Linked DNA regions of Homo sapiens. The protein of the gene in region 4 purifies or fractionates together with the protein of the main gene of each other region. This does not show direct contact. Each region holds a gene or a part of one and is shown on either strand. Other genes may lie near its edges. The genes, in order: PPP2R2C, ZNF143, RBMS1, SMAD9, SMAP2 and BCL7B.

Region 1 (3,500 bases), on a different chromosome or scaffold from region 4:
GTGACCCACACAGAGCCAATCAGATCCTTCCATGAGAGTTTTACACAGTCCCTGGGAGGGGTTGGCTGGCTGAGGATAATGGAAAGGGGAATGATTTGGGGGTCATCTCTGAAGAGGGAGAGGATGAGGCCAGTGTGTAAGAAGAAGCAGGGAGGAGCGGAGATGGGGAAGCATGGAGAGAAGAAAACGGCCGGAGAGAAAAAAACAGCCCTAGGGATACAGCATGGGCCCCTGGGGGAGCCTTGCCCAGGACTCCTCAGAGCAAGTGTAGGTGTGTTTGACTCCCGCACCCGAGCACGCTCGGCTGGCACAAATCTCTCCCCCCAGGCAGGACAGATCAAGGAGAACTTCATGGAGGAGGGGGCGTTGAAGCCTGTTGTGGGAGGGCCTGCGGGATTCCTCCGGGTAGGTAACCTGGGGAAGGGCAGGCCTGCCAATAGGATAGTCCACGCAGGATCACTGCGGCACCCCTGCGCATACGAACTGGGATCTTGCTGAAGGCATCACACATGGTCTCATCCCCAAAGCGGCCACGAAGGCCAGTTTCCTAGAACCACTTTCCAGCCGAGCTGACTTAGGGGCTTCCTCAAGCACACGGTGGCGAGGGTAGAATGTGGACCAGAGACTGAGAGAGTCCAGCAGGAGAGCTGCTGCCTCTCCACAGCACGCTGCCCATCTGCGTTCTGCCGGTGCTAGGAAGCCCCACGGCAGGGGCCATCGGGCAGCCACCACGCGGCAGCAGCGGCGCTCTGCGGGCCGGACCAACTGTCAGAGGGGGTCACCAGGAATAAGAGGGCAGCAACTGGGAGCCTGCCAGGATTCGAGTTTGCTTTGGTCTGCAAGGATGTGGGAACCTGGGGGGAATCCTTGCTTCTCTCCTGAGCCTCTGAGGCCCTGGAAGGCAGGACCCAGGGTCTGTTTATCTTGGGACCCCTGACCATGGGGCATGTTGTTCTCAGAACAGTGCTCAAAGTGAACTGGGAGGTGGCACACCTCTATGCCTTCTAGAAACACCCACAGCCACTGGACACACCTGAGGTCCCCAGTGAAGGGCTCAGAACAGGTTGAGTCATAGTAGCCCCCCAGGGCACCCCACCCATTGCGGGAGGCAAACAAGGACAGAGGTTCCAGCCGGGCAGAGCAGAGCCAGCTGTGGAGCGAGAGACAGTGAGGCGGGTGGGGGACCACTAGGACAGGGCGTGGCTGGCGTGTAAAGTGCACGCAGGAAGTGGCGGGTGGGAGGCAGGACAGGAGAGCCCAGGCCTAGACACCACTGTCAGCCTGGGGATGCTTGGCGGCTTCTCCAGTCCTGGGAGCAGGCATCACCTGGCCGCGGGTGCCCCCTGGTGGCAGCTTGAAGGAAGGACGGGCAGTGGGTCGCAGCCAGCGGGGACCTACCCCGCAAAACGCACATAAAAGCTGGAATCAGCTTGTTACAGCTGCAGGTCCCTCTCGTCCGATTTGGATAGACCCTCTTGGGACCCACTGCACCAGGGAACCCCAAATGCAGCTCAGCAGCATGGGAGGAGCCCTGTCTGCTGGGGGTGTCTGGGATCTATCTGGGGGCAGGGCCTAGAGAGAAGGTCCTGTGTCCTGCTGACCCAGCTGTGCCAGCCCAGCCCCGGGTCGGGCCTCCATCCTGGTTTTCTAAGCATCCTTTAGTGGCCCCCTGTGATCACCATGCCAGCCCCTTGCCTGAGCTCGGGCTCTGCTGAGAGACCCCTGCGGGCTGGGGGAGCTCCAGGATGTTGGCAACTCTCTCAGAAATCTCCTTCCCTGGACACAATGACTTGGCCCCCCACTTGGATCCAGCCCTGCTTCCAGGGGGCTCCCTCCTGGTCCTGTCTCTGCCATGTCCAGCCCTCCCCTCATCCCACACACCAACCCTGATGGTCCCAGCCCTATGCCCAGAGCCACAGAGAGTCATAGTGCGGCAGCTCTCACATGACCACCACAGTGCCAGCCACCCTCAGAGGTCTGGGAGAGCCCAGACCTGTCATGTTGACTGATGCCATCCACAGGGTGGACAGCCCCCCACCAGGTGATGCCCAAGTCAGGGCTGCTGGCTCTCACTCCACCCTCCTTGCCCACCACACTGGACAGGACTGCGGGGAGGAGGTGACAGTACATGGGCTCCTGACAGGTGGTATTCTGATCTAGCAGCCAGTGTAGTCTTTATCTCCACACTGTGTATCATCTGGAGACCCACTTCTGAATCTGGGCGGCTGGACAAAGAGGCATCCTGTCCTTGAGGAAGCAGCTGTAGGAGACACTGAGAGGCCACCTCTCAGCTTCTGAGATCGAAACTCACAGATGGAGAGTAGGCTTGTCCATTTCAGAATCTTACGCCTGGCAGGACCCTGAGCACAAAGCTGATGTGATTTGGGAGGGCAGAAGAGGGATTTTCCCACCTCCAGAATGGAGGAAGAATCCCAGAGAAGAGACACAGAGGTAAGGACCCACGGGTAGAGGTCAGGTCAGGAGCCCCTGCCACAGCCCCCTTGTCCATGCCCGCCCTGGGCTGAGCCCAGGCTAGGGAGACACAGGAACTCACTTCTGGCACTGGGGCGCCACTTTCCAGGCAGGTGGGGTTGAGAGACGGCTGGACTTGTGGATTGTGACAAGCCCTGGAGGGTGTAGGAGCTCCAAGGTGCCCCTGAGCCTCAGCGGGCCCGAGTGGGGTGTCACCAGGAAGAGAGGGAGACAGTAGTGGTGATGGGAGGAGGGGTGAGTAGACCGATGGTCAAAGCCACAGGGGTGCAGGGCTGTCTCAGGACATACAGGTGTGGATGGATGATGGTGACCGGGTGCTGGGCTATAGCCCTCGCCCCCGACAAGCTGGGAGAGGGGAGCACATCACCGGGGACCCTGAATTAACTAAACATGTTCCCACTACTGCCCATAGGGCAGGCGCCAACGTGGCTGTGAGGTTCAGTGACAGAAGATGAAGAATTTCATGTCCTGCCCCTTGAATCTGAGCGCTGAGAGTTGGACCTGCTCTGGAAAGCGTGGGCTTCACCCAGACACCTGGACCCATTGAGGCTGAGTAGCCCCATGCTGCGGGTCACCGGAATCCCAGCCCAGACCCCTGCAGGGCAGAAACCCTCCCTACGGTGAGGTGAGGTGCGGGCTGAGGTCAGGGCTTACCTGTCGCTCCCGTTCCAGGCACATTCAAACTTGTCGAAAATGCAGTCGTTCTCGTACAGGGAACAGAGCTTGCTCCGAAGGTAGTCATGGACCTGGTGGGATAAGGGATGAGGTGAGTGGACGGGGCGTCCCGACCATCCTGGCCCTTCCACAAGAAGGGTCTCAAAGAGCAGCGAGGGTCTGCATGCCCTGACATGGCCCAGCGCAGACCTGCTCATCTCAGCGAGGGTCTGAATGCTCTGACACAGCCCGACACAGCCCTGCTCATCTCATCGGGAGGCCCATGACCAGGCACACGGCTGACCCCGACCGTGACACAGCCCAATACAGCCCTGCTCATCTTATCGGGGGGC
Region 2 (3,500 bases), on a different chromosome or scaffold from region 4:
AGAAAACATGAGATCTAAATGTAAGCATTGTTCTTGAGCAGGGGACAGTTTGCGTCTAGAGGATGGTCAAGCAGTACAGTTAGAAGATGGTACCACAGCATTTATTCACCACACCTCCAAAGGTAAAATAACTTTGAAAGTATGAATAAAATAAGGGAGAAGTGGGAGTGGTGGGGGAAAGAAGACCTGTGTTTAGCTTCTGAATTGTTGTCATGGGAAAGAATTGTATTTATTCATTAAAGTACAAGGTGGCAGATTTAAGCATGATTTAAGGAAAAATTTTCCTACAATTTGAGCTGTCCAGTGACAAGCTGGAACAGCAAACCAAATGACTGGTCCCTGGAAGACTTAAAGTAGAGGCCACATTTTGTTTTTTTGGTTGGCTTTTGTTCTAAGAGACAGGGTCTCACTCTGTTGCCAGGCTGGATTGTGGTGGCACAAGCACAGCTCACTGCAGCCTCAAACTCCTGGGCTCAGGGATCCTCCTGCCTCAGCCTCCTGAATAGCTGGGACTACAGGTGCATGCTGCCTCTCCCAGCTAGTTTTTTCATTTTTTGTAGAGACAGGGTCTTACTCTGTTGCCAGGCTAATCTCAAACTCCTGGCCTCAAGCCAGCCTCCCAAAGTGCTGGGATTATAGGCGTTAGCTACTGCACCCAGCCTTAATTTCATATTTTAAAAGCAGCCTTGGCTCCTTTTTTAAATGATTCAGAAATAAAATCACAATGTAACATTGAAATGGTTAACTTCATATTTTATTCATTTCTGTATTTTAGAGATAAGATCTTTGTTAGGCTAGAGTGCAGTGGTACAATCATAGCTCACTATAGCCCTGAATTCCTGGGCTCAAGGGGCTTTCCTGCCTCAGCCTCCTGAGCAGCTAGGACTACACGTGTGTGTCACCACAGCCAGCTGATTTTTAAATTTTTATTTTCTGATTAATTTTTTTTGTTAAATATAGGGTCTTGCTATGTTGCTCAGGCTGGTCCTGAACTCCTGGCCTCAAGCAGTCCTCCTGCTCCGACCTCCCAAAGCAGTGGGGTCACAGACATGAACCACTTTGCCTAACCTATTTCTTCCTCTTAAATGCAATTTTTTGCCTGGGCATGTTGGCTCATGCCTGTAATCCTAGCACTTTGGGAGGCCGATGCAGGCGGATCACCTGAGGTCAGGGGTTTGAGACCAGCCTGGCCATGCAAAACCCTGTCTCTACTAAAAATACAAAAAAATACAAAAATTAGCCAGTTGTGGTAGTGCATGCCTTCAATCCTGGCTACTAGGGAGGCTGAGGCAGGAGAATCGCTTGAACCCAGGAGGTAGAGGTTGCAGTGTAGTTGAGATCGTGCCACTGCACTCCAGCCTGGGCAACAGAGTGAGACCCTGTCTCAAAAAAATATATATGTGTGTGTGTGTGTGTGTGTGTGTGTGTGTGTGTGTGTGTGTGTATAAAATTTTTAAAGCAAGGTCCTTTGCCTACTATGTTTAATTGAAACTAAGTATACAATGTCAAAAATATTTGAAGCAAATACAGCAAAATGTTAATGCTTATTACATTTGTTTAAGGGAAGTTCAGGGGTTTGAGGTGGAATGTCTAGGAATGATGAGTACAGCTCTGCAACCAGACTATGTATATTCAAAGCTACTTTTTTTTTGCTGTGTGACATTAAGCAGATTACTTTTCTGTGCTTTAGTTTCATCATCTGTAAAATGAGGATTATAGTAGGTGTCCATATCATACGTAGGGTTGTTGTGAGGACAGAATGCACAAACATGTAAAGCACTTAGAACCGTGCTTGTCTCATACTAAATGCTCAATAAATGTTACCTATTGTTACTACTTTAGAGAATATTTTATTTTAATTAATTAATTAATTTATTATTTTGAGACAGTCTCGCTCTGTTGCCAGGCTGGAGTGCAGGGACACGATCTTGGCTCACTGCAACCTCCGCCTCCTGGTTTCAAGCGATTCTCCTGCCTCAGCCTCCCAAGTAGCTGAGATTACAGGTGCCCGCCACTACACCCGGCTAATTTTTGTGTTTTAGTAAAGATGGGGTTTCACCATGTTGGTCAGGCTGGTCTCAAACTCCTGACCTCAGGTGATCCGCCCACTTCAGCCTCCCAAAGTGCTGGGATTACAGGCATGAGCCACTGCACCCAGCTAGAGAGCATTTTATTATAGAATGACATAACACGTTTTAGAAAGGCTGTTTTGTTGTGAAGCCAAAGGGAGGAATCTTTTTTTTTTTTTTTTTTTTTTTTTTTTTTTGAGACAGACTCTCGCTCTCTCTCCCAGTCTGGAGTGCAGTGGTGCGATCTCGGCTCACTGCAAGCTCCGCCTCCTGGGTTCACACCATTCTCCTGCCTCAGCCTTCGGAGTAGCTGGGACTACAGGCACCCACCACCATGCCCGGCTAATTTTTTGTATTTTTTTTAGTAGAGGCGGGGTTTCACCGTGTTAGCCAGGATGGTCTCGGTCTCCTGACCTTGTGATCTGCCCTCCTCAGCCTCCCAAACAAAGGGAGGAATCTTTAAAAAATTTAAAATACTTAAATTTATAAATAAATTTCTTTAATTACAGTTGGAAAAAAGTAAAGTCTGCACCCCTTCCTTCCTTCCTTCCTTCCTTCCTTCCTTCCTTCCTTCCTTCCTTCCTTCCTTCCTCCTCTCCCTTCCCTCCTTTCCCTCCTTTCCCTCCCTTCCCTTCCTTCCCTTCCTTCCCTTCCTTCCCTTCCTTCCCTTCCTTCCTTTTCTTTCTTTTCTTTTCAGCAGAGTCTTGCTCTGTCACCAGGCTGGAGTGCAGTGGTGCAATCTCGGCTCACTGCAACCTCCACATCCTGGGTTCAAGCGATTCTCCTGCTTCAGCCTCCCAAGTAGCTGGGACTACAGGTGCGCGCCACCATGCCCAGCTATTTTTTTTGTATTTTTAGTAGAGATGGGATTTCACCATGTTGGCTAGGATGGTCTCAATCTCTTGACCTTGTGATCCGCCTGGCTTGGCCTCCCAAAGTGTTGGGATTACAGGCGTGAGCCACCACAAAAGGCCGCACTTTTTTCTTTATCAATAAGAGTTAGTCACAGGTTCATTGTAACTGGCTAGATTTATTATTTCACTATCTCTATATATATATCGATATAAAATCACTATTTTATATCAATACCAGTATAGATATAGATATATCTTAGTGTGGACATTTAGAGGGGAAAAAACCACCATGGAGGGACTGTGGAGTCATACTGACATGAGTTCAAATCCTGATTTCTCTACATATTGATTTTGACTGTTAATTGTTAGTGTTTTTTCTTTGTTTGTTTTTGTTTTTGGTTTGTTTTTTGAGAGGGACTCTGGCTCTGTCGCCCAGGCTGGAGTGCAGTGGCACGATCTTGGCTCACTGCAACCTCTGCCTCCCAGGTTCAAGTGAGTCTCCTGCCTCAGCCTCCCCAGTAGCTGGGAATACAGGCGCGTGCCACCGTGCCCTGCTAAGTTTTTTGTATTTTTAGTA
Region 3 (3,500 bases), on a different chromosome or scaffold from region 4:
TGTCAGCTGCATTGCTCACTTAATGCTACCTACTAGAGACACATCTTTATGTATTACCATGTTTATACTTGTTCTTTTATCAGTTCCTGCTGAAGAATAAACAAAAGCAAGGGTACACACCTATTCTGTATTATATCTAACGGCAATTATCTTAAGTTTCAATTTTTGGGACACATGGTGTCCAAAAGCAGGGCCCCTTGGTGAAGGAAGTGTTTGGGTTCATTCCAATCCAAAATGCTATGATTCCAAGGACTGACCACTGACAAACATTTTCCTTTGCTTTACATTCTCCTATACATAAATTGCTCTGCCAAATACAAAGCAGCTCATACTAAATTGGGTATCCAAGCTGCATAATATTTGACTCAAATTTCATAAACGCTCAAAATTTTAAGACACATAAAAATGTAGCAGAGATTCATGGTCCGCAAGTGGTTATACTGCTGACGAATCCTAAAGGTACAAACCTGGTAGGCAGATACAGGAGATGCAATATAGGGTGTAATAGAAGTTTGAGTGATCATTCGGTTTGTAGCAATACTGTATGGTGAAGGATAAAATCTAGAACAAACACAAAAGCCTTTATTAAGTAATCCTTTAAATAGAATAATTCATGGAACAAATGTCTGATATTTTCCACCTTCACATTTTCCCTCAAGCCATTATGGATTTATTTTAACGACATACCCGTTCTGTATAGCAGCTGTAGTTGGGTCGTAAGTAAGTGTCATTCCAGCCTATGGGAAAGAGAAAGAAATATAAACATTCATCTAGAAAGGCATGATTTAAAAATTCTATTTTTAGCCAGGTGTGGTGGTGTGCACCTGTAGTCCCAGCTGCTGGGGAGGCTGAGGTGGGAAGATCCTTTTGAAGCCCAGGAGTTCGAGGCTGTAGTTAGCTATGATTACATCACTGCACTCCAGCCTGGGCAACAGAAGGAGACCCCTGTCTCTTAAAAAAAAAGGGGAGGGAGGGGAATTTGTACTTAGAGTCTAGTAGCATTTGATAAAATTGGGAGTTTCTGTTAGTCAAAATGACTATAAATATGAAAATTAATCTCTGGACCTGCACTGTCCCATGTGATAGTCATAAGCCACATGCAGCTATTTAAAACTACATAAAAAATCAATCTCTCTAGCATACTAGCTACGTTTCAAGTGCTCAGAGAGCCACCTGTGGCTGGTGGCTGTTATTGGACAGTGCAGATTCTAGAACATTTTCCCTAGACATTCTTGGATCAATATGTTATTGTTTTTAAAATAATAATTCATGGAAAGTCAATACAGGGAAATGGACGTCCAACATTTTATTACGAAATTGAGAGTTTTAATTAAAAAAAAAACTATTCAAAAGAGAGGTGAAAAAAACCCCAACTCAGTGATAAATGTACTATTTATATATAAATATTTAGATTACTATTTAGGATAACTTCTAAATATTATAAATATAAACCCCTCTAAGAAACCATGCTAGCCTGGGCAACATAGTTAGATCCTATCTCTATAAAAATTTTAAAAAATTAGGCCGAGCACGATGGTTCACGCCTGTAATCCCAGCACTTTGGGAGGCTGAGGTGGGTGGATCATGAGGCCAGGAGATTGAGACCATCCCGACTAACACGGTGAAACCCCATCTCTAGTAAAAATACAAAAAATTAGCCGCGCATGGTGGTGGGTGCCTGTAGTCCCAGCTACTTGGGAGGCTGAGGCAGGAGAATGGCATGAACCCAGGAGGCAGAGCTTGCAGTGAGCGGAGATCGTGCCACTGCCCTCCAGCCTGAGCGACAGAGCAAGACTCCATCTCAAAAATAAAAAATAAATAAAAAAATAAAAATTTTTAAAAATTAGCCAGGAGTGGTGGCATGTCCCTGTCGTCTCAGCTACATAGGAGGCTGAGGTGGGAGGACTGCTTGAGCACAGGAGTTCAAGGTTGTGGTAGGCTATAACCACACCACTGGACTCCAGCCTGGGCAACAGAGACCATGTTTCTTCCTTTCTTTTTTTTTTTTTTTTATTTTGTTTTTTTTTTTTGAGATGGAGTCTCGCTCTGTTGCCCAGGCTGGAGTGCAGTGGCATGATCTTGGAACACTGCAGCCTCTGCCTCCCGGGCTGCAGCGATTCTCCTGCCTCAGCCTCCCAGGTAGCTGGGATTACAGGCATGGACCACCACGCAGGGCTAATTTTTGTATTTTTAGTAGAGACGGGGTTTCGCCATGTTGGCCAGGCTGATCTCTAACTCCTGATCTCAGGTGATCTGCCTGCCTTGGCCTCCCAAAGTGCTAGGATTATAGGTGTGAGCCACCGCGCCTAGCCTACAGAAACCCTGTTTCTGAAAAAAACCAAAAACAAACCCAAATCACTTGTGTTTTTCTTATGGCAATTTAGAATGCTCTTTTACTTCATGTGTAGCTAGCTGGTAAACACAGCTGCTTCCACCACCTATCGGTCCATCTGGAGAATCACTCTGTTATCACCATATATAATGAAAAGAATTTTAATTTGGCATCACTTGAATTATAATGTACCGAAAGGAAGATTTAATCCTGGCACCTATTTCAGAAGTGTGCAGCCAAGTCAAGATGCCTTTTTGTGTTACTTTTCATGTGGGCATTCAAGATCACACCCCCTCCCCCACCCCGCAAAGTTTCAAGAAAGGACTTACAAGTCTCACCTCTCCTTCTCTATGCCATGGTCTTCCATTAGGGATGTATTTGTTTGGGTTCTGTCTCTTTTTCTGTCCTCCATCAGCAAACTTACACAATAAAGGTTCTGTGGGGGCTAAGTAAACAGAGAAAAATAAAATGAAACCACAATGATACGTGTATGTGGATGACAAAATGTATTACAAAAATAGGAATAGTGTTCACGCTATTAGAAAATTCATACAACACTTTAAGGCAAAAGCAGTTTACTCAGACCTTTGTAAAACTGTCCACGATGAAAAACATAGTGCAGAAAAACATACTAGTTATTATTTCTGAACATTTAAATAACTATTCTGAGGAAGCAAAGGAATCTTTCGATTCACTTTCACACTTAAGAGTAGACACATTTCTTTTGGTTTTGGGCCCTCTCCAATTCCACCTCTGGACCGTCACCAAAATAATCTTCAAATTCAATAGGATTGTGCCATCCTCCCCTCCCCCAACTTAAAATGGTCCCTTAGCGTCCCATTATAATTCCTAAGAGGGACCCTTCACTTCTCCCAGTAGAAAACAAGCCACCTCTACACTGCTCGCACATATATTTTTATTCACAATTTGTAACAATTGGTGAGTATGTTTACTTGCTTGGTGTCTGTTTCCCCTTCTAGGCTATACGCCCCATGGGGGCAGTAACATTGTCTGTTTTGTCTATCACTGTATCCCCAGTGCCTAAGTGTCTGGACTTTGTAGTTGCTTATTACATCTTGGTTGCATCAGTGAATGAATAGAAATAGGTCTCATATGTTTATTTTTGGGATACGTCAGTGAAGATGGCTGTTGTGAGAAAGCTAAAAAT
Region 4 (4,155 bases):
ATCCAGCCTAATCCTTAATATATAATCTGTAGCCCTTACCGGTCCCGCTGTTTCCTGGTGTTTCTCACCCAGGACAATCTCAAACCCAACACATAGCCGGGTGCAGAGGTATCTGGGCCAGTGTAGAAAGAAGACTTTGAGGTTAAGGCATGGTATTTAAGGTTCTGCTGCAAATGTTGTTTTAAACAAATCACCGTTCAACTACAACGGTATAATAATGCAAAAATAGCATCTGCCATGAAGAAAGTGCAGTGCTTTGAGAACTAGAAAAAGCAGTTAAATTTAAGGCCTTGCTTTACATTTCGGAGCCGCCATCGGGGCCAACTGGAGGTATGACTTTCCTGCACACAGGAGCAAGCTGAAAACTGCCCTGTGGCTTTATTCCACGTTCACCCCTGCAGCAAATGCCTTTTCTGTGAGGAACTACGGGCTGATGGGGAATCAGAGGTGGTTCTTCCTAAGTGGCGTTTCTGAGTGGGTTCCAGGAGTCCACAGTGACTTTAAGAGGCAGGCTACCTGGGGGACAGCCAGGCCGTGAGACGAGAAAGTTGTACAGTAACATTGCTGTGTGCCCATAAGTTTGTATCTTTTATTAGATTAGATAATATATCTCACATGCTGGGTTGTTAAGCAAATAAATATGTGTAAGGAAATTACAATCCACATAATTACATGAGTCGTTTTAACCACCACTCACCCCCAGAGTGATTAGATTTTCTTCTGCCTATGCCATTGCGGCCCAGTTGCTCTGTCACTGTCCATGGGGACAGGATCCCCTTACTCCGAAAAGCAAATCAGGAACAAACAGGGCAAGTGAGAGTCACTATCAGGGCCCAGAAACATGTGAGGAACAGCAGCTCAGAAGGGTCTCCAGACTGATGGGCCGGTGATCCTATATTCTTGTTGGGCTGACAACTCTTCTGGTTTCGGGCTCCAGGTGCTGGCAAGAAATCTCAGAGGTGGGGTGGGAGAGAGAGACGCGAGGCGACCCACGCAGACAAAGGGCTCCCACCCCACCCCCGGGCCACCCCGGCAGGCCGGGCAGGGGCCGAGCCTGGGGTCGCGCAGGGGGACCGAGAGGGCAGCGCGGGGCTGGGGGTGGGGAAGAGGCGGGAACCGAGCCGCAGGCCGCTGCGAGGAGTACTACCCCGCCACCCCCGCGCCGCGAGTTTCCGCGCACGTGGCCGTGGGGCCGGTCTCGCTCCCGCCCCCCGCCGGGCCCGCGCAGCCCCCTCCTCTGCGGCTCCCGGAGCGGCCAGAGCGCGCGGCGGCGGGCGGGGGCGGGCCGCAAGCAGGGCTCCCTGGCCGCTTTCCAGGTCGGCGCACTAATACGGGCGATGAGGCTTCGCGGCTCCAGTCTGACTGACGCCGGCTGGGGCCGCCGCCGCCGCCGCCGCCGCCGCCGCTGCTGCAGCCGCTGTCTCGGTCCCCGCCGCCGCCGCCGGGCCCTGCAGGCGCTGGGCGCGCGCAGCCAGGCAGTGAGTGCGCGGCGCTCGGAGCGGGCGGCCGGGGGACCACGGCGGGGGCGGGGTTGGGGGCGCCGGACCTGGGTGGGGGAGGGATGAGTGGCACGGCGGGGACAGGTAAGACGTGCCCTCCTCGGCCGCGCGCTGCTTGTGTGCGTGCGTGTGAGCGCATTGAGTGGAGGGCGAAGTTGTTCGTCCTCGGGGCAGCCTGGGAGGCTCCTCGGCGTGAGGCTTGGCTTTTGGCGGTCGTTGTTCCCGGGTTTTTTGGTGGAGCCTGTCTGGGGTGGAGTGGGGTGGGGTGGGGTGGGCGCGGGGCCGGAGGGGACTGCTCTGGGGAGTTGGCCGCGGCGCAGCTCGCCTTCCTCGCGCCTGCATCCGCCCGCGCCGCGGGCCCCGGGACCTGTCAGGGGATGTTCGACCCGCGGCGGGGGCGGCGGTCGGGTCGGGGCTGGGGCCCGGGGCGTGGGCAGGGACCAGGATAGGCGCCTGAGGGGTCGCTTGCTGTAGCTGGAGATAGGGGACAGCGGACAGAGGGGGCGGCGGGGGTCGTCATTGTGACTCTTTGGGGGCCACTTTTAAACTCGCCAGCGCCGAATTGGCCTCACTTGCCTTCTGTTTCGTAGGCTTTTTGCTTTGTTTACCTTTGAGGCATGCGAACTGAGAAAAAAAGTTAGGAATGTTGTTGAAGTGTCTCCGGGCTCGCGCTTGGACTGTGTCGGAGCCGGGGTGTTTGTCTTTTCCTTGGCCCGCCCCTCGGTGCCAGCTCTCCGCAGAGGGGAGGGGGCGAGGTGGGAAGCAGATACAGGAGACTGCCTGACGCCAGCTTTGTGATCGGAAGGAGGAGCGCTGGGAGAACATTTTTATGGATGGCTAATCGCTGACAAGTTTTCCCGTTACTATTCCTTCCTCCTCCTGCCCTTGACCGTGGACATTTGAAGTGATAGTTTGGAAATACTACGTTGACTTATTTCTGGGCTGGAGTGGGTACTCCTGAGAACTAACCTACAAAGGATACAAATCGAGTTTGGAGATAAAATTGTATGTAAATTCTTTACCCAGTAGTTTACAGTGAGAAACACACCCACAGGGCACTGTGGAGTGCTTTGGATGGATCCAGTTTACTAGTACCATTTCGGTGGCTTGCCAGATTTCTCGGATGATCTTTTGGAAATGTAGGTTAGCAAGAAGCATGGAGGCTGACCGTTAAGTCGTGAGGCATTTAATAATGCTGCCTCCTAAGCAGTAACTGAGCGGAACGTTTGTGGCACCCGTCTGGGAAAGTGAAATGTGACTACTACAAGCATGTCTCCTGCCTTAGCATTCCTCCAAGTGTGAGGGAATGCCTTTGGATGTTTACATTTTAAAAATAGTGATCTATATTTAAGAAGGCATTTAAAATAAAAGCCAAAGACATTCTCAACTCCAAATAGACAAAGATTCAATATAAGAGTTTCCCTGTGCTTGTAGGAAAGCATCAGCACAATTTTAGACTGCTTTTAGGTTTGTGGTTATCCAAGAAGGAGGCTTCAGATAAGAAAAGGATGTGACGCTTTATAAATAAGGAGCATTTTAAATACAAGATGACAGCAATTTCAAGTACTGTATCCGAAAAACAACTTTTAGTGGTAATAGTCACCTTCAGTGATGGCAAGACAGCTGTCTGCCAGACAGCCTTCGGCCTCTTAATGTATTCTGACACAACCAACTCCCATTTTTATGCTTGACTGGTTATCTTTGTCAGAGCTGTTTTATGCTTGAGCTCTCTGGTTTCAAACTATGCTTAAGAGAATGCCAACATACTCTTGATCTGAACAAACTCATGTTTATCAGTGCAGTGTTTACTAAAAATCAAAGACGTAAACAAATTTTGGGTTAAACCTCTAAGTACTTTAGAATTGCCACATCATTGTCATCAGTCTTTCAAAGTCAACATGAACTATTTGGCTTTTCTCCTTTAAAAAATTTTTTTAACTTATATATTCCTAGTTAGTAAGTAATCAGAAAATATTCACAGATGTCAACTCTTGCATCTGTGATTGCCCAAGACATGGATGAGAAAGAAGAGTTTTGTTTTGTTTTTTAAATGAAACATTACTAAAGATATCCATAAGTAATAAACAAGTGGTACACTATCTTTACTAATCATGTGGTCAGTTGGAGGGAAAAAAGTCTGTCCAGAAATTGTTTCATAAAGATGAAAATATTCAATGTCAATATGAAAATACTCAATATGTTTTCCAAATAGTTTAATTCTGATTAATGAGAGTGCACTATGCATTGCCAAACTGGAGGGATGGTGTTTCGTAAGTGAGCACCGTAGGATTAAGGTAACTACTTTATATCTGACATTCCCTCTGTAATAAATAGGACAGCAGTTTCATCATGTTCTGCTTTAATATGTGGGAAATAATCCTTATCCACAGGATGTACTCTGATTTTAGGGAAGGTAAAGGTTATGACAAATATGTGGTTTTTCTGATTTGCCAGACATACTATGCTAAATTTTAAAGCTTTAACGAAGCTTAGTGCAGACTTTCTGTATATTGTTTTGGACACTTAGAGAGGAGTTAAAGAAACGGGAAACTGTCCAGAATGAAACAGTAAATATAGCAGTACGTTGAAACCATGAATCTTCTCAAATAGTTGTAATTCTAGGCTGTTGGATTTATATTTCCTTGGTTACTGTTGC
Region 5 (3,500 bases), on a different chromosome or scaffold from region 4:
AAAAAGAATAGTTTTTAACAAAGCCAGTTTCTTTTCATTTGATATTAAACGTCTTCACTTAGCAAATACTAATTATTGGCATAAAAATCTTCACAAAATATGAAAAAAATCTAAGTACATTAAATAACAAATTCTGAAATAGCTTTTTGGTAAATGGGAGGTTATTTCCTTCCTAAGAGAAACATCCGGTAACCGGGCTTGCTTTCATGGGTACAGTATACCAGCAATGAAATCATGAATACCCTGAGGGCAGAGCTGCTGTTTCCACAATAGCTGTGTACAAATAGCAACTCTACTCCTTCGTCATCTGAATTATCTCAGATACCCTTTTCTGACCTCATCTGAGTTCATATCTTTAGGCACAATGAACAGAGCTGGGCAGACAGACCACAGTTTTCTACAAATAAAACGAAATGTGTATGCTTGGGTTCTAAACTGTTTTTGATGATGCCATGCAAGCTGTAGCTGCACACTGGGTTCTTTCTTGGCACAGATATGATATTGACAAGTCCCTTTTCTGGATAACTGCAAGGTAAGAGTCCTTCATACACAGTTGAGAAGGAATCATTTTTACCTAACTATATGTATTACACTTACTTGCCTGTGTTGAAATTCACCTACCAGTTAATGCCCCTTTCACACAGCTTCATAAGATCAGCCTGAAGTGGATTCCAATTAGCTTAACTTTTAATTACCCAGAAGGGCTTGGAGCTCAGTGCAAACAGTGATTTCACTGGCTATTATATCATTATTACATAACTAGAATAGATGATAGATAGGTAGGACCTGCGCTGGAAGTGGAGAATCCCTTACTCTCAATACTTCTGTGACTAGATAAATAGCCAATTATTCCTAAGAGAATTTTCTGTAGAATCTTGTCAAAGGTTATTTAAAGGTATAAATAGTCATATCTATTGGTTCTCCATTAGCTGTCATTAGTTAGGCATATTTTCCTCTTTCAGAAATCATGCTGTCTGTCCCCCTGTGTGTTATATTTGTCCTAGTTATCATATACTGTATTGCAGATTCTAAACATGCCTAGGATGGAATGTGTTCTTGGCAACTGGTAGCCAGTCTCCCTCTGAAACCCTTCTCAGAAACAAGGGTCCCATTGGCAATCAGTCCAACACACTGGTTATCAGCAGGTAATGCTGGAAATATACATTGGTCAAACTGAAGGAAACTCTGGTGATTTAATTACACCTACTTTTGTTGATTTCATTTACAGGAAAAAAGTATATATGTGTGTATATATCTATGTAGATAGATATAGCTGTAGTACATATACACATATACTGTTTTATTTGATCTAGTATATGCAACATGTCCATCCCAAGAAATAATTCAAAACTGGGAATCATCACTAACACCTTCTAACTACAGATTAAGGCAAGAATTCACCGATAGGCAGAAGTTTGTTTCTGCCTCATGGTCTTGACTCAGTAACTGGCACTTTTTACTTTTGCTTAAAAATTTATATTGAGACAGGGTCAAACTCCGTTGCCTAGACTGGAATGAAGTGGTGCAATCACAGCTCACTGCAGCCTCAACCTCCCTGGCTCACGTAATCCTCCGACCTCAGCCTCCCAAGTAGCTGGTTATTACAGGCATGTATACCACCATGCCTGGCTAATTTTTAAATTTTTTGTAGAGATGGGGGTCTTTCTTTGTTGCCCAGGCTGGTCTTAAACTTCTAGGTTCAAGTGATCCTCCCACCTCAGCCTCCCAAAGTGATGGGATTAGGGGATGAGCCACCACACCTGGTCTACTTTTGCATTTTTTAAAAGATGGTTTTGGAGTGTTTTGGTAGCAGTTCTTCAACGTGTTCTCTGGCCTGATTTAATAAGCACATTACTTATTGTGGACAAAACTTGAAAGATGTATAACCAACCCTAAAGGCATTGATGTCCAGACTTCGGTCCATGTATTTCTTCTTCTCATATTTGTCTCGAATAAATCCTTCAACAGCTCTGCAAAAAGCTTATTAAGGATGAATCCAACAAGCCTCTCAAACAGCAAGAAGATAAAAGATCAATTGTGTTCCACGGAGCATTGTTCTCCTCCTTCCCTCTTGCCTGGTTTCCCCACATGGCTCCTGCCTCTTCATATGCAATTTCTCTGACCAAAACCTTAAAATGCCTCTTTCACAGTTAAAGCAGGGAATCATTACTTCCTATGCTTTCCCTTCAGCGTGATGATAGCAGCAAGTGGAATTAACCTTCAAACTGACATTAGAGGCTGTATGTGGCTGTTCTAGAATATAGGTAAAGCAGTCAAATGTCTATTTTAAAGCACTTAGGTCAATAGGCCTCAAACAAAGGCACGTAAGTGCCCCTTAAAAACATAAACTCTTGTGCCCCACTGCCAAATTCTGACCAGTGGGTCTTCTGCAAGGCCCCAAATCTGCATTTAACAGGTTCCACCTGAACCCATTAAAAAAAAAAGAACCTTAACAAGATGATCTACAAACTACATTTTGAGAAGCACTGCCTTTAAGGGATTTGGTTTTGTGTCCTAGGTGCTATGCTCTGTTGAACAGATGGTGGAAGAAAGTTATTGGTTATTGACAAACTGGTAAACAACAGTTAATTCTTTCACCCAAGACATAAAAAGATGATAAAAATGAATGGCAATTTTGCTGACTGCCAGGGTTAACAGAGCACAATGAACTACTCTTTTTAATCAAACAATAGTTTCAGAGATCCAAAATAAACTAGTGGAGATGTAACTTTATAGAAGAATTCACAGTGAAATCACTGCAGTCTTAATTCCAGAGTGAGTCTTCTTCAAGTGACACCGTATGACAATTCCGACATTCACAAATACATGTGCTTTTTGTGCACCTTGATTGCAGGACAGAGGACAAGCAAGGACACTGACTAATCCACATAGAGATGACCCAGTCACATTACAGGACTGGAGTCTTGTCTGACTCTCCCCAAGCATCAAAATACCACTCAGCCTTCTAAGTTGCTCCAGAAAAGATACGGGTCTATCTGAGGTCGCCGAAAGGTCTCAGGAAGATAGGCTTCATAAAGTCGGTTTGCCTTTCCATTTCCCATCTCTTGCATGCACTGTGACCAAAGAGAATGTAGAAACATGGAACGTCAGATCAAGAAAGAACTGAAAAACTTCTCACCCAATTCCACTACTGTACAATTGAAGAACCAACCTAGAGAGTGTCAGAACCAACATTTAAACTTGTGTATTCTGATTTCCAATTCATGATTCCCTCTACCTTACTAGGATTTCCCAATCATTTGCCCCAAGCTGTCTTTCCCCCACTCCATAGGTTCCTTTTACTGAAATATTTGTGTACCAAGATACATTCAATTCAGTAATAAATCAAGATCTCATTTGAAACTCTTAGATACACAGCTACCAATTAAAATGTCTACTTGGCAGGCAATGATCAGTGTTATCATTCTGAGTTTATACTATTAATCAATTCCAATAAATGTGTTTCCCATTAGGCTTTTAAGTAGACTCCTTAACACTTG
Region 6 (2,418 bases), on a different chromosome or scaffold from region 4:
ACTAAAGGCGCCTGCCACCATGCCTGGCTAATTTTTGTATTTTTAGTAGAGATGGGGTCTCATTTTGCTGGTCAGGCTGGTCTTGAACTCCTGAGCTCAGATGATCCACCCACCTCAGCCTCCCAAAGTGCTAAGATTACAGGCGGGAGCCACTGCGCCTGGCCTGGTTTTTATGTTTTAATTTAAAAATATTGTTTAGATAGAGATAGGGTCTTGCTGTGTTGCCCAGGCTGGTCTCAAACTCCTAGCCTCAAGTGATCCTCCTGCCTCGGCCTCCCAAAGTGCTGGGATAAGAAGTATGAGCCACCACGCCCAGCGAGAAGCATAATTTGAACTACGTGACAGCTTCAAAGGGAGGCTAGAAATCACTGTCATGAAGTCCACACTGTGGGAGTGAAAGGATGGGCAGGCCCAGCCCACAGTGACCCCACAAGCACTCAGCCACCACCCCCACCCCGGCCCGCAACCTTCAAGAAGGAAGCACTCAGATACCAACAGGACATATTTCAAATAGTTTAATTTTAAAAATATTCTATTCAGTGCTAAAATATGTCTTCACTCACTGTTGCCCATTTCCATTTTCTTAAACTTTTTTGAAACAAAAAATAAAATCACAAAGTTCAATTCAACATGCAGATTTCAAAGAAAAGGGAGCTTTCTAGAAACTGAGCTGAAGGGGTACTGTGGGGGATGGGTACTGTTGTCAGAACCTCAAATTCTTGCTGGGGCAGTTTGTGACAAGAGGCAGGGATGCTGGAATGACAGGTAGAGGTGAGAACAAAGCTGCGTGTGTGCAGATGTGTGTGCTGAGGGCAGGGGATGGGGACGGCGGCCACAAAGGGCTGTCAGCAGCTAGGGTGCCCGTGAGAGGTAGGACCACCTCAGGCATGGGCAGAGCTGGCAGGACAGCAAGAAATCTAGACGGACTCTCTGCCCTTGTGTGGAGAAAAGCCCTTCCCTTCCCTCCAATGTCTCTACCCAGTCCTCCAACAGCAGCCTACAGGGCCCCCAGTCCTAGGGGAAAGTCCGGGAGTCTACAGTCTCCGTTCAAGTTCAAGTAACCTGAGGCACGCTCTCTTCTAGAAGGTGCCTTCCACATCTCTCTCTTCTCGCAGAAGCTGCCAGCAGCTCCGTCCAGAGATTCTGGAGCAGAGACTGCTGCCTGGAGGTCACAGATGAATCTTGGGGTGGCCGATGCTCCAGCCAACTTGGGGTGCAAAAAAGACATGAGCGCTCCTCTTCTCGGGAGCAAGTAGACACAGGTGCCAGGGTCAGGAAGATGATGCTACAGCCCCAAGTCCTACGCCAGCCTTCCAGCCCGGAAGGCTCATGTGTGCAGGCTCTTGACCCCAGTGCTTGCCCTTACCCCAGCAACGCGGCGCGGCCAGAACCAGAATGCAATAAATAGAGGCAGGGCCAGGAGGCGGAGGGCCGGGATGGTGCTAGCTTTCTGACGCCGTCTGCGGCACTGTGGGTTGGTCCACACAGAAGCGCTTCAGGGGCGGGGCACCTGAGTCTTCCTCTTCCTCAACGACCTAGGAGCAGGCAGAGCATGGAATGCCAGGGCCACCCCTCCCAACCAGAACCTTCCCACCCACCCGAATTATAATGGGATGTCCACTCTGCTCCTTCCAGCAGATGATCAAACATCCTCCCCTGCCTACAACCCTGGGACTCATTTCCGGCGCTGCAGATCCAACCCCACATCCACAGTCTTTCCTGGTTTTTTGACTTAGAAACTGGGAAGCCTGGCCGGGCACAGTGGCTCACACCTATAATCCCAGCACATTGGGAGGCTGAGATGGGTGGATCACTTGGGCTCAGGAGTTCGAGACTAGCCTGGCCAACATAGTGAAACCCCATCTCTACTAAAAATACAAAAATTAGCCAGGTGTGGTAGTGGGCGCCTGTAATCCCAGCTACTCAGGAGGCTGAAACAGGAGAATTGCTTGAACCCAGGAGGCAGTGGAGGTTGTAGTGAGCCAGGATCGCACCACTGCACTCTAGTCTGGGCAACAGCGAGACCCTGCCTTAAACCAAAAAAACAAAAAACTGGAAAACTCAAAGTGATTGCTTACCTGTGTCTCTAGTGGAACTGGTTCTTCCTTGGTGAGGGTAGGAGGTTCATCAGCAACTTCCGAGGAGGGCAGGGAGGGCTCTGAAAAGGCAGTAGGGTCGGCCTGAGGGCAGGGCTCCCCTGAGGCCTGGACCTGGGGGAGCTTCCTTAGAGCTGTGTGGAGGTGGCTTGGTGAGGAGGGGAGAATACTGGCCTGAGAAGCAAACATTCATTCAGGGCCCAGCTGGACCAGGTCACAGCCAAGAATGGTGGAAGGGCAAAATACGGCTAGACTGCAGAGGGCCATCTCTGCTGGGCTGGAGATATCTGGAACCGACAAAGCAGCTCATCTTGTCATCCTC

The links.
Region 1: the proteins of SMAD9 (region 4) and PPP2R2C purify together in Homo sapiens (affinity purification with mass spectrometry; one large-scale study listed by BioGRID and IntAct). This does not show direct contact.
Region 2: the proteins of SMAD9 (region 4) and ZNF143 purify together in Homo sapiens (affinity purification with mass spectrometry, with the first as the bait; one large-scale study listed by BioGRID). This does not show direct contact.
Region 3: the proteins of SMAD9 (region 4) and RBMS1 purify together in Homo sapiens (affinity purification with mass spectrometry, with the first as the bait; one large-scale study listed by BioGRID). This does not show direct contact.
Region 5: the proteins of SMAD9 (region 4) and SMAP2 purify together in Homo sapiens (affinity purification with mass spectrometry, with the first as the bait; one large-scale study listed by BioGRID). This does not show direct contact.
Region 6: the proteins of SMAD9 (region 4) and BCL7B purify together in Homo sapiens (affinity purification with mass spectrometry; one large-scale study listed by BioGRID and IntAct). This does not show direct contact.

Annotation. Positions count from the first base shown.
Region 1 is NC_000004.12:6,326,115-6,329,614, forward strand, and holds part of PPP2R2C (protein phosphatase 2, regulatory subunit B, gamma), read right to left. Parts: intron 3,240-3,500; coding exon 3,148-3,239; intron 1-3,147. UniProt on the Homo sapiens protein: The B regulatory subunit might modulate substrate selectivity and catalytic activity, and might also direct the localization of the catalytic enzyme to a particular subcellular compartment.
Region 2 is NC_000011.10:9,474,512-9,478,011, forward strand, and holds part of ZNF143 (zinc finger protein 143), read left to right. Parts: intron 1-38; coding exon 39-122; intron 123-3,500. UniProt on the Homo sapiens protein: Transcriptional activator. Activates the gene for selenocysteine tRNA (tRNAsec). Binds to the SPH motif of small nuclear RNA (snRNA) gene promoters. Participates in efficient U6 RNA polymerase III transcription via its interaction with CHD8.
Region 3 is NC_000002.12:160,284,308-160,287,807, forward strand, and holds part of RBMS1 (RNA-binding motif, single-stranded-interacting protein 1), read right to left. Parts: intron 2,778-3,500; coding exon 2,662-2,777; intron 738-2,661; coding exon 688-737; intron 562-687; coding exon 468-561; intron 1-467.
Region 4 is NC_000013.11:36,917,439-36,921,593, reverse strand, and holds the start of SMAD9 (mothers against decapentaplegic homolog 9), read left to right. Parts: upstream 1-1,355; 5' UTR 1,356-1,478; intron 1,479-1,557; exon of another isoform or gene 1,558-4,155. UniProt on the Homo sapiens protein: Transcriptional modulator activated by BMP (bone morphogenetic proteins) type 1 receptor kinase. SMAD9 is a receptor-regulated SMAD (R-SMAD).
Region 5 is NC_000001.11:40,408,227-40,411,726, reverse strand, and holds part of SMAP2 (stromal membrane-associated protein 2), read right to left. Parts: intron 3,075-3,500; coding exon 2,989-3,074; intron 1,971-2,988; coding exon 1,892-1,970; intron 1-1,891.
Region 6 is NC_000007.14:73,535,856-73,538,273, forward strand, and holds the end of BCL7B (B-cell CLL/lymphoma 7 protein family member B), read right to left. Parts: intron 2,159-2,418; coding exon 2,079-2,158; intron 1,536-2,078; coding exon 1,443-1,535; 3' UTR 501-1,442; downstream 1-500. UniProt on the Homo sapiens protein: Positive regulator of apoptosis. Plays a role in the Wnt signaling pathway, negatively regulating the expression of Wnt signaling components CTNNB1 and HMGA1.